Regions from separate parts of the Homo sapiens genome. Here all the other regions are linked to region 3. Evidence: fine-mapped expression QTL. A gene starts in region 3. Each other region holds a variant in brackets. All regions are shown on one strand. Distances are from middle to middle. Region 1 overlaps WHAMM (WASP homolog associated with actin, golgi membranes and microtubules). Region 2 overlaps HOMER2 (homer scaffold protein 2). Region 3 holds the start of WHAMM (WASP homolog associated with actin, golgi membranes and microtubules). Region 4 overlaps SH3GL3 (SH3 domain containing GRB2 like 3, endophilin A3).

Evidence for each region.
Region 1: its variant is fine-mapped to the expression of WHAMM in whole blood (INTERVAL, PIP above 0.99).
Region 2: its variant is fine-mapped to the expression of WHAMM in whole blood (TOPMed, PIP above 0.99). The same link has a PIP of 0.9 or more in monocytes.
Region 4: its variant is fine-mapped to the expression of WHAMM in platelets (CEDAR, PIP 0.95).

The regions. Positions count from the first base shown.
Region 1 is chr15:82,832,817-82,835,501 of GRCh38, reverse strand. WHAMM (WASP homolog associated with actin, golgi membranes and microtubules) reads right to left here. Exons shown (of 10, transcript NM_001080435.3): 10 at 1-2,273. The coding sequence ends at 1,966. It also overlaps a transcript of HOMER2 not described here. Among named protein-coding and RNA genes, the nearest start is that of WHAMM, 25 kb to the right of the region's middle. RefSeq lists an enhancer at 2,017-2,685. The variant T/C (reference allele first, on the strand shown) is at 1,487.
Region 2 is chr15:82,846,637-82,849,321 of GRCh38, reverse strand. HOMER2 (homer scaffold protein 2) reads left to right here. Exons shown (of 9, transcript NM_004839.4): 9 at 1-339. Among named protein-coding and RNA genes, the nearest start is that of WHAMM, 38 kb to the right of the region's middle. The variant G/A (reference allele first, on the strand shown) is at 1,219.
Region 3 is chr15:82,808,376-82,811,060 of GRCh38, reverse strand. WHAMM (WASP homolog associated with actin, golgi membranes and microtubules) reads right to left here and starts at 1,433. Exons shown (of 10, transcript NM_001080435.3): 1 at 726-1,433. The coding sequence starts at 1,334. RefSeq lists silencers at 528-697, 918-1,027, 1,048-1,177.
Region 4 is chr15:83,504,285-83,506,969 of GRCh38, reverse strand. All of the region lies in intron 1 of SH3GL3 (SH3 domain containing GRB2 like 3, endophilin A3), which reads right to left. Among named protein-coding and RNA genes, the nearest start is that of SH3GL3, 58 kb to the right of the region's middle. The variant AG/G (reference allele first, on the strand shown) is at 1,446.

The sequences.
Region 1 (2,685 bases), 24 kb before region 3:
AAGGGACTCACGCCCCTCCCAGCTGTGCCAACTGAGGCCCCTCAGGCTGCTGTGTACCAGTTAGTTAAGACACTGGAAGGCCAGGTGTGGTGGCTCACGCCTGTAACCCCCAGCATTTGGGAGGCCAAGGTGGGAGGATCACGAGGTCAAGAGATCGAGACCATCCTGCCAACATGGTGAAACCCCATCTCTACTAAAAATATAAAAATTAGCTGGGTGTGGTGGCACACGCCTGTAGTCCCAGCTACTCGAGAGGCTGAGGCAGGAGAATCACTTGAACCCAGGAGGCAGAGGTTGCAGTGAGCTGAGATCGTGCCACCGCACTCCAGCCTGGTTGACAGAGCAAGACTCTGTCTCAAAAAAAAAAACAAAAAAACTGAAGTAGGAAGATTTCTGTTCTATATCAATCAGGACTTTCTTTGTAAACGAGGTGCGTTCCTTTTGTTCTGTGGAGACCCAGGAGTAATATCACCAGAGTGAGGGTGATGAGGTTAGTAGGGATGCTCGCAGTCTGAGAAATGAACGGACTGCTTTGCATCAGTCCCTTCCCCTTCCCTGATTTTAAAAATTTAATTTTAAGGAGAAAATACTTCAGCATGAGACTTCAGTTCCTGAGGAAAATAACACTATTGCTCCATCCTTAGTATTCACTTAAACAAATGTTTAGCTAAAATTTTATTAAAAACTTTCAGCCCACCCGGACACGGAAGACTTTGCTTTTACAGCAGCTAAGGTATGTTTTCATTACCCCGTGAGTGATGCTAATGCATTGCAAATAGTTATTATGAGTTTATGTAGTGCTTGGTGCCTAAAATAAATTTCATTTAAATATTTAAAATAACTCCTGAATATAAGCAATTTATTCTGATTACTGATAAAATAACATTCACATTCAAGCCTACAAATCTGAGAAATCATTATTCCATATGCACAGAAGGCCACAGTCAGTAGTCTAATAGTACTGCTTACCAGTGTAGTGTAAACTTCTTTCAGAATCAGGGAACAATTCTAGATCAGCCATGGTGAGAAATAAGTGCTCTTCTCTTAGGCCAGCGACACTTCCGATGGGTCTTGACATCCCACCTATGGGCTGGTGTGTGAAACTCTCATCTCTACGTCCCTCCCCAGTTTTAAGAGTCACCATGTCACATAAAAGCTCCAGCATCAGCCAGGCACGGTGGCTCATGCCTATAATCCCAACACTTTGGGTGGCCAAGGCAGGTGGATCACGAGGTCAGGAGTTCAAGACCAGCCTGGCCAACATAGCGAAACCTTGTCTCTACTTAAATATACAAAAATTAGCCAGGCGTGGTGGTGCATGCCTGTAATCCCAGCTACTCGGGAGGCTGAGACAGAGAATTGCTTGAACCTGGGAGGTGGAGGTTGCAGTAAGCCAAGATCGTGCCACTGCACTCTAGCCTGGATGACAGAGAGATTCTGTCTCAAAAGAAAGAAAAAAAAAAGGCTGGGCGTGGTGGCTCACACC[T/C]GTAATCCCAGCACTTTGGGAGTCTGAGGCAGGCGGATCACGAGGTCAGAAGATCGAGACCATCCTGGCTAACACGGTGAAACCTCGTCTCTACTAAAAAATACAAAAAATTAGTTGGGCAAGGTGGTGGCGCCTGTAGTCCCAGCTACTCGGGAGGCTGAGGCAGGAGAATGGCGTGAACCCAGGAGGCGGAGCTTGCAGTGAGCCAAGATCGCACCACTGCACCCCAGCCTGGGAAGCGGAGCTTGCGGTGAGCCGAGATGGCGCCACTGCACCCCAGCCTGGGCGACAGAGTGAGACTCCATCTCAAAAAAGAAAAAAAAAAAAAATGCTGCAGCAGCCTACACAAGGCCCTGCTGATCTTCCGGGGTGTTATGTGGCCCATCTATCAGCACCCTGTTAGTATGCTTTTCGATAGGTCTAAGACTCACCCACTTTATTCAAGCCTACTGTGGCAGGTGCCTTTGTCAAACTTGAGCCTAACCATCCCACTGGCCAGGGTCCTGCTCATCACTGTCCTCCTCAGAGTCAGCAGACACCCTCTTGATTCTCTGGAGCGCAGCCTTGATGCTCCTCTCAAGGTCACTGGTGCGTCTGTTGCTGGTTGGTTTGCTGCTGGGGTTTGGGCCAAGATCAGGGTGAACTTTCTTCAGTTTGACCCCTTGCCTTATGGCAGCCAGAATGTGCTCATTGATTGAGGCGTGGGGAGGGCGCACCGCCGGCACTTCCACCTTCCGGAGAGGAGCTCTGCCATGCCTTAAGGAGGCCAACACTTCATCCATAGATCCTGAAATTGAATAAGCAGAGCTAGTACTATCAATAAAACACTTTCCCTTCCCAGGACATTACTGCTATGAAATTGTGAAATCTCCTATCAGTTAACACCATGATTTAAACAAATAATCACTTCATTAAGCAAATGCCTTGATTACGTGCTAACGATAAGCTCCCTGGTTGAATCCAGGACAGCTGAATAGCTCATGTTTTAGCTTAACCACTTCCTTTCTGCTAACTTCTTCAAATCCATAGCAACTGACAGGAACAGACATGCACTTTTGTTAGAATGACGGTTTTTCAAGACAAATGTGATCTGTCCCTCCCATCCTGAAGAGTGTTACGGAGGCCTGGGGTGGAATAGTCTCACCCACTGTGCGTGACCTGGATACCTCTGAAGCTGTATCTCCTTCATTACCCTGTCC
Region 2 (2,685 bases), 38 kb before region 3:
GTATTTGAATGTCCACCAGACACCAGCCCCGGGGGGCACAGAGAGAACAACATTCCTCTCTGTCAACATCGAGAGGCTTTAAAACAACTGTTTAGTGGAAACTTTCTGAGAGATGGAAAACAAGCTTCTGGTGGGTGCATTTTCTGGCCCGGAGTTGCCTGCATCCACGCTACTGCCCCCTGCCCCCCGCCCCCCCAGTTTGTACGGTTGCAACAGTGTTCCTTTTCTTGGTTTTAATTTCTGAGCAGATGATTGTGCTGTGGGAACAGCACACAGTGAGGGTGCCTAGCACAATGTCTGGCACAAAGTAGGTGCTTAATAAATATTTGTTCAATTAAATGTGTACACAGAATTTAGTGTTTTAATCAAACCCCACAGCAGAGCTGGGACCCTGTCGAATGATGCACCATCTTTGCTGTGCTGGGTAGTTAACAGACATGAATACCACTGTCTGGTCAAACCCAAGCTGGGGCTCGGGTGGCCCTGGGGCAGGGAGGGAGAAGGGGAAGCAGCAGGAGCTGGTCTCAGGCCCCTGGAGCCCATCCGTGATGCTCTGCCCCTGGGGCTCTCCAGACCCTCGAATCACCTTCTCCCCTAGGAATGGTGACCCAGGGATTCCAGGTATAGGGGCTGCCCAGGGCTTGGTACCTAGGGTAGGATTGTCTTATGGGTCTGGACAGCTGGGAAGAAATCACAGGCATTTCGGGGGGAGAGAGCAGCTCAGCTGACAAGCCTTGGCCCTCATGACAGAGGTGTTCCACCCAGCTCTGCGTCCTGCCTTTTTCAGTTTCTCCTAGGGAAGGGACTGCAGCCATAAACCTCTCCTCTCTCACAGAGCTGCTCAGTGGGGCCAGCGGGCCTGTGGGTGCTGTTGGCATCCTGCCCTGGGAGATTGCCCGTGTGTGGCAATAATGGCTTGAATCCCTGGCCCCACACATCTCTAAATGCCTTGAGCAGGGGGGAGGCTTTGGTGCCCCCTCACCCCTTTGAGAACCACCTAAGAGGACTACTCCTTCTAGAAACCTTCTCCCATGGACGTGGTTAGACTTTCTCCCTGCTGAATTTGGATTAATGAGCAAACAACCCGAGGAAGGAGGGAGATGGGGTCCGAACCCAGGTGCCCTGGGCCCCAAGGTGAACACGAGTCCTCCTGCTCTCCTTCCCTTCCCCTCACGGAGACGCCTCTCTGAGCTGGGGAGTCTTGTTTGGGATGTGGAT[G/A]GAAGGGAAGGCTGGGCATCTGGAGCACCAAGGCACTTTTAGAGGAGCTCCCGCAAGGTGAGTGGGGGCTTTGGTTGAGTACATAGGGCTTTTGGCAGACAGGAAGTGGAAAGCGTGGCCAGCCATCTTTGTGATTCGGGGTAGTCTGCTGCTGGCCCTTCCCTTTCCCCAGAGCTCCAGACGGCTCTCAGGACAGTTGGTAGCAGCTCCCTCCTGGCTGCACCAGGAGACCAGAGAGCCGAGCTGGCTATGAGTCAGCCCCGTGGCCCAGCAGCGGGATAAGGGGATTCTCAAGCCAGCCTGGTCTGCCCAGCAGCAGGCTGGGTGTGTGGCTGCCTGGGAGCAGTGGACACTGGGTTCCAAACACCTTCCGCTGGGGTCTTCAGATGACCTCTGCCTTTATCAGGTGACTTATGAATCTAGAAAGAGCCCGCTTGACTGACAAGAGAATGCTCAGGTGACATGCATAGAATAGTTACTGAAGCCACTTGTACATTCTGATAGCAGTGACTTTAGAAAACTCCAGAAGTGGAGGTGTAGAAAATGTTGGAAGAGCCATTTCCACAGTGGGCTGCTGTGCAGTTGAGACCCATGATCCCAGTTCACCAAGCACTGAAGAGTGTGGTGAGCATCCTGTGGGCAGCAGGTGAGGAACTTGGATTCCTCCTGCTGTGTGTCCAGCTCTACAGCTGTTGCAACCCTGGAGCTAAGAGTAGTAAGGACTCCCTTAAAGGGAAAGGTAAGTTGGGCTTGGCCGTGAAAGCACAACAGCTTTTACAAAAGCACTGAACTTTCCATTCCTTCTGCTTTTCTCTGAAGATCTCAGTGTCTTTTCATTTACTTTCTTTTAAAATAGTGGCCCTGGAGCAACCTGGACGGTGTTCCCTTGAGCTGGTGTGACGTGCCCTCGTTTATTCTGACATCCAGCCCAGTCTCAGTACTGTTGTCATAACCTTACGCCAGACTCAGGCAGAATGTAAGCCATTCACTCGTGAGCATCGCAGCCGCTTGTGCTGCCTGGAAGCTGCAGGGCCAGGACTGCATTTTCAGTTTGCAATTGAGGTCTCCTGATTTTGGTGTTTCCAAGACTGGCTGCTATACCTTGATAAGCTTTCCTTCTGCCTCCATGAAACCTGGTGTCTAAAAAAGATCAACTAAAACTTGGAACCCTTTAACCAAGAGGACCTTTAAAAATAACCTTTCATTCCAGTCAAGACCCAGCTGGATGCATTTTAAAGTTGGGAGTGGCGAGGAAGCCTTCCTAGTGCCGCCCGGGGAATGTAAAACCACCAGAGCAACAGGTTGGGACAGTATGGTCAGGCCTTGGAGGGAAAGAGAACCAGTATCCACACAAGACCTCGAACTTGTGTGGCCCCTCAGTTTCATCTCTCCTGCCTGCCATCACATTAGACTTTAATTGGGTGAGAGAACAGGGCAGAGACTGTCACCTGCATTTTGCAGATGGGA
Region 3 (2,685 bases):
TAACAGCAGTGAGCCGAGACTCCAGCCTGGCTCTCCTTAATAAACTGTGGGTGTGGACTTAGAAGGCATATTTTCTCCTAAACCCTTCTGTGAACTTGTACTTCCCCTCCCCTTAGGTTCAGTAAGTTTACCACTCAAATAATTACTCTCTCTCAAACTACCTCTTTCAAGCTTAAAAGGGCACTAATGCGGTCATTCCAAACTGATGAATAAAGTTCACCTTCTGCCGGCTTTCCATTTGACCAAGTATATATTACTTAAAACAAAACACCCTATCTCCTAAAAGCCATTTCTTCCTCTAAACCATTTTATCCCATTTGCGACGTCCCCTCATACACAGGAATTGCTTACATTTAGTCCGTGTTATTCTTTCCTACATGGATGGGTTGTTTTCAGTCTTGCTTGCAATATTTCTGGCATTTCCTGTTACAACATCCTGCTCTGCCAGCATCTTCAGGGCAAAAGTTGGGGGCCTAGCCCAGCTCCCAGCTGCAAGTACACTAGGCTCTAACTTCGCTTGTCCTCTCTGCAGACCCTCCCGCAGCTCCCGCCGGTTTCCCGCAGCGGTCCCGCGCAGGTGACGGCACTGGGGAGCCCGCGGCCTTCTCCGCCCGCCGGCTCCTCCCCGTCAGCCGTCAGCCAGGGCTCTCGGCGCCGGGGGAGCCTCCCACAGTGTCCCAGGCCATGGAAGCGCGGACGAACGCCGGCGACCGGGCCTCGCTTACCTGGCGCAGCCGCGCGTCCGCCTCGACCCACCGCGCGCGCAAGGCCCGCTCCCGGAACTCGCGCGGGCTTTCGCAGTCGGCCGCGCCGCCCTCAGCCGGGAAGAGTGCGTCGCGCACTGTGGCGCCGCCGCAGCCGTCGGCCGCCGCGCCCAGATAGCGTTCCAGCTGCCCGCACAGCTCCTGCAGCGCCGCCTCGCCGGGACCCGCGCGCGTCGGCCACAGCAGCGCCCACAGCCCGAGCCCCAGACCCCAGGCCCCGCCGCCGCCCACGTCCAGCTCCGGCGGCAGCCGCGGGAAGCAGCGCTCCAGAGGCGGCCACAGCGCCGCCAACTGCCGGTGCGCGCCGCGGAGCCCCGCGGCCGAGAGCAGGCCGGCCCAGCTGGACGGGGAGACGGCGGCCTCAGGCTTGGGCTCGGGCTCGGGCCCCAACCGGGCCCCCTCGCGCAGCCGCCGCTGCTGCGCGGTACGGTCGTGACAAGTCACAGCGAACTTGCCCTCCGCGCCGTTCCAGGCCACCAGGAAGCGCAGCCGGTGCCTCTCGGGCTCGGCGAAGAGGCCCTCCCGGACCGGCACCCAGCCCTCCAGGCTGTCAGGCTGCTCGTCCTCCATGGCTGTCGGCAGCAGCGGCCCTAGGGCTCGGCGGGCGCGGGCCTGGCCTCCTCGCACCGCCTGTCACGGGACAGTCCGAGCCAAATCATTTTTCGCTAGAATCGAAACCGCGTCAGTGCCCCAGCAGCACCCTGGCCCCCGGCACTTCTGATTGGCTGGCTGCCGGAGGTGGGGCTTACAAGAGGCATTCGGGGTTGGTTGGGTGATAGACGAGAGGGCCAGCGACAACCAATGAAAAGGTGAGAAGGTCTCCCTCAGGAGTCAATCATCTCGCAACCTGTTCAGGAGTCTGGGAAATACAACTCTTGCCTCACCTTTTCCACCCAATACATACGGACGTTGGAAAAATATCTGTTGAATCGGCGAGTTATTGTATTAGTCTCCCACACTAAACTATGAACTTGAGAACAGGGACCAAGCTGATTTTCTTTTCTATCATCAGGGCCCTATTGAGTACATGGTTCACGCCCTTAAGAATGTCACAAATGCGTTGGGGAGATGAAATATAAACTCGATAGTCATTTATTGAGGGCCTCTAAGTGCCAAGTACTGGGCAAGAAGCCGCAAATTTATTTTTGTCAATTCAACAAACTTTTATTGAGTGTCGGCTGTGTGTCAGTATTGAGGGGGTGGAGTAAGAGGGGGAATTCAGGGCACTGCAGCTCCCAACCAGGGTGTTTAAATACAATCTGTGTTCTAACTCTTCACTTTAGAGTTAAGGAAACGGAGGCCCAGACAAACTTAAGATACACCGACACTCGGGCTCGACATGCCCCCCTGGCTACGGAAGGCCTGTTTAAGGAGATATCAGGAAATCCAGTTTACGTGTCAGGGTGGAGCTAAATCTGTTCATGCAACAAGCACCAAGACGGCCCTAGTCTCTGCCTAGGAAATGTGCAGTGTAGACTGAGAAATACAGTCCATGTCAGCTCCCATCCTGGGAGTGCACTGAGACAGGTGGTGGGAATGGGAGGAGGAAAGGAGGGAGATGCCAGGAAGCTGGGATCAGGAGCCGTTTGCCAAAGCAAGGCCTGTGAGGTGTTGATTCGGGAACAAGTGAAAGTGTTTGTGAAGGTTTTGAGCTGGGAAAAGTTGGAATCAGATTTTGTACTTGCTGTTATCCCCAAGGGTAAACAATAAGCAAACGAAAAAATCAGGGCGAAGCTAAAGCTCTAGTTAGGGCATCTCTCTGCCTTGAAAATGACCTCAAGAAATCTAGGAACCTCTGTGGAATGCAACTTGAAGATGGAAAGGTGCCTTTGTCTGAAGGTCCCTCCCCTTTTATGCCTGCTGCCGGTGTGAGGGTTGGGGATTGGGCCCTGGGACTCAGTCACTCAGTCTTCTTGGAGAG
Region 4 (2,685 bases), 700 kb before region 3:
GGAAATTTTTTTTTTTTTTAGCAAAAGAGAATGATTTCTATAAACAAAACCTGTTACGGTAAACAGATGGGGCAGAGCTGCGATGCTCCCCAGCCTTCAGCCACTCCTTGGGAGCCTTTATCGCTGAAGGAGTGGAGGTTTGAAAACCTATGCATCAGAAAACGCATAGGAGAAAAGGGCCAATTCACACCAGAAACAAAAAATTTTAAAAACTTAGAATAAGAATTTGCCAGACCTCTATTGAAATGAAACCTACAAAATTTTTCTGAGGGACATAAAAAGATTCAAAAGTAAATGGCAAGACATGCCACATTCCTAAGTGGGAACACTAATTTCTAACAAGTCACAGACAAATCTACAACACAGCCAAAAATAATTATGTTAATATTAAAGGGATCCTAAAGCTCATCTAGAAAACAAAAATGTAAAAAATGTCAGGACAATGCCGAAAAACAAGAGTAACGTGCAGGAGCAGGCCCTATCAGATGTGTCCCGCAGAGCACAACAACTACAAGTAGGTGTCAGAAAGTGCCAGAATCAACAGAATGAGCAATTAACAAAAGAGAAAGCTCAGAAATACAGCCAATATATAGGATCCCACTTCATAATACGGGTAGCATTTACAGTAGGAAGAGGTCAGATTATTCTGTAAATTTGCTAACCGTATTCATCACATTCAGGGAAAAAAAATGTTATAACCAAAGCTTTAAAAAAATTTCAGATGAATGGTTTAAATATTTTTAAATGAAAACATAAAAATAAAACCACCACATGTAGGTGAATATTTGTGTAATCTCAGAGTAGGGATGCCTTTCTAAACAGGATTTCAAAAGTCAGGAACTATAATGGCAAAGACTAATAAAATCAACTACGAAAAAAACCTACATGTTAAAAAACAAATATGGGAAAAGATTAATAAACCCTATTACAGTAAAATAATTTCTTTTATCAAAAGACATCATTAGGCTTTAGAGAGTGAAAAGATAAACTACAGAGTAAGAGAAGATATTTGTATAGCATATAACAACAAAGGGCTAGTGTCCAGAATATGTAAAGAACTGCTACAAATAAATAAAGACAACTAATTTCTTAAAAATGGATAAAATACTTGAACAAGCATGTCACTAAAAAGGAAATTCAGGCCGGACGCAGTGGCTCATGCCTGTAATCCCAGCACTTCAGGAGGCCAAGGCAGGCAGATCACCTGAGGTCAGGAGTTCGTGACCAGCCTCGCCAACATTTAGTGAAACCATGTCTCCACTAAAAAATACAAAAATTAGCTGAGTGTGGTGGCACACACCTGTAATCTCAGCTACTTGGGAAGCTGAGGCGGAGAATCGCTTGAACTTAGGAGGTAGAGGTTGCAGTGAGCCGAGATCGCATCACTGCACCCCAGCCTGGATGAGAGAGTGAGACTCCATCTCTCAAAAAAAAAAAAAAAAAAA[AG/G]GAAATTCAAGTAGTCAATCAATAAATGAAAGAGTGCACAACCTCTTGACTCCCAGGGAATGCAAAATTAAAATCCCAATGAGATATCACTTACATACTCACCAGATGGGCAAAAATCAGAAAGACCAATAATACCACGGATTGGCAAGGATGTAAAATAATGGGAACTTTCACGTCCTGCAGATTGGAGTATAATCTGGCATTATTTGATGAGGTTTGGCCATTATCTAGTAATGTTAAAGAAAAAGTGAAGATGCCGATGTCCTTTAGCCAGCGAGTGCACTACAAGGTCAACTTAGAGAAGCCTGTGGAATGTGCACCAGGAAACATGCCCATAATATTCACTGCAGCAGTTTTCATAATAGTCTCAAACCCAGGACAACACCGATGACCACGAACAGGAGAACAGATACGTATGTAAGTGGTGTATTCATACAATGAATCTCTAGATTGCAAATAAAATGAGCGCTGGCTATATGCAACTATAGGGATATGCCTAATATCGAGATAAGACCCAATTTTAAAATACATGTATAAAATAGGTAAAAATATGCAAACCTAAACTATCTTGTTTAGAGATGCATACATATTGGTGGTAAAATTGTAATGATAAAGAAGGAAATTATTATTATAAAAGTCAGAATAGTTATGTTAGTTGTCTATTACTCTGCTAAAAAATTACCCCCAAACTCAGCAGCTTAAAACAGCTCACATGGCTGTTATCTCACGCAGTTTCTGAGAGTCAGGAATCCAGGAGCAGCTTAGGTGGGTGATTCTGGCCCAGGATTTCTCATGAGCCTGCAGTTAAGCTGTGGGCCAGGGCTGCAGTCATCTGAAAGGCAGAGGATCTGCCTCCCAGCTCACCCACATGGTTGTTGGCAGGCCTCAGTTCTCTAAGGGCTTTTGGAAGGAGGGCCTCAGTTCCTGGATACCGGGGCCTCTCCACAGGGCTGCCTGAGTGTCGTCAAGACATGGCAACTGGCTTCCCCCAGAGTGATTCATCCATGAGAGAGTGAGCAAGCCCAAGATGGGAGCCACAGTCTTTTATAACCCAATCTGGAATACAACATCGCACTGTTTCTGTATATTCTATTGGTCGCACTGGCCCACCTTGGAACAATCCTGGGTGGGTATGAAGACCAGAAGGAGAGAATCACTGGGGGCCATCTGTGAAGCTGGCTACCACAATTGTGGCTTCTTCTAGAAAGTTGGGCATAGATTGTATCAGGAAGGAACACA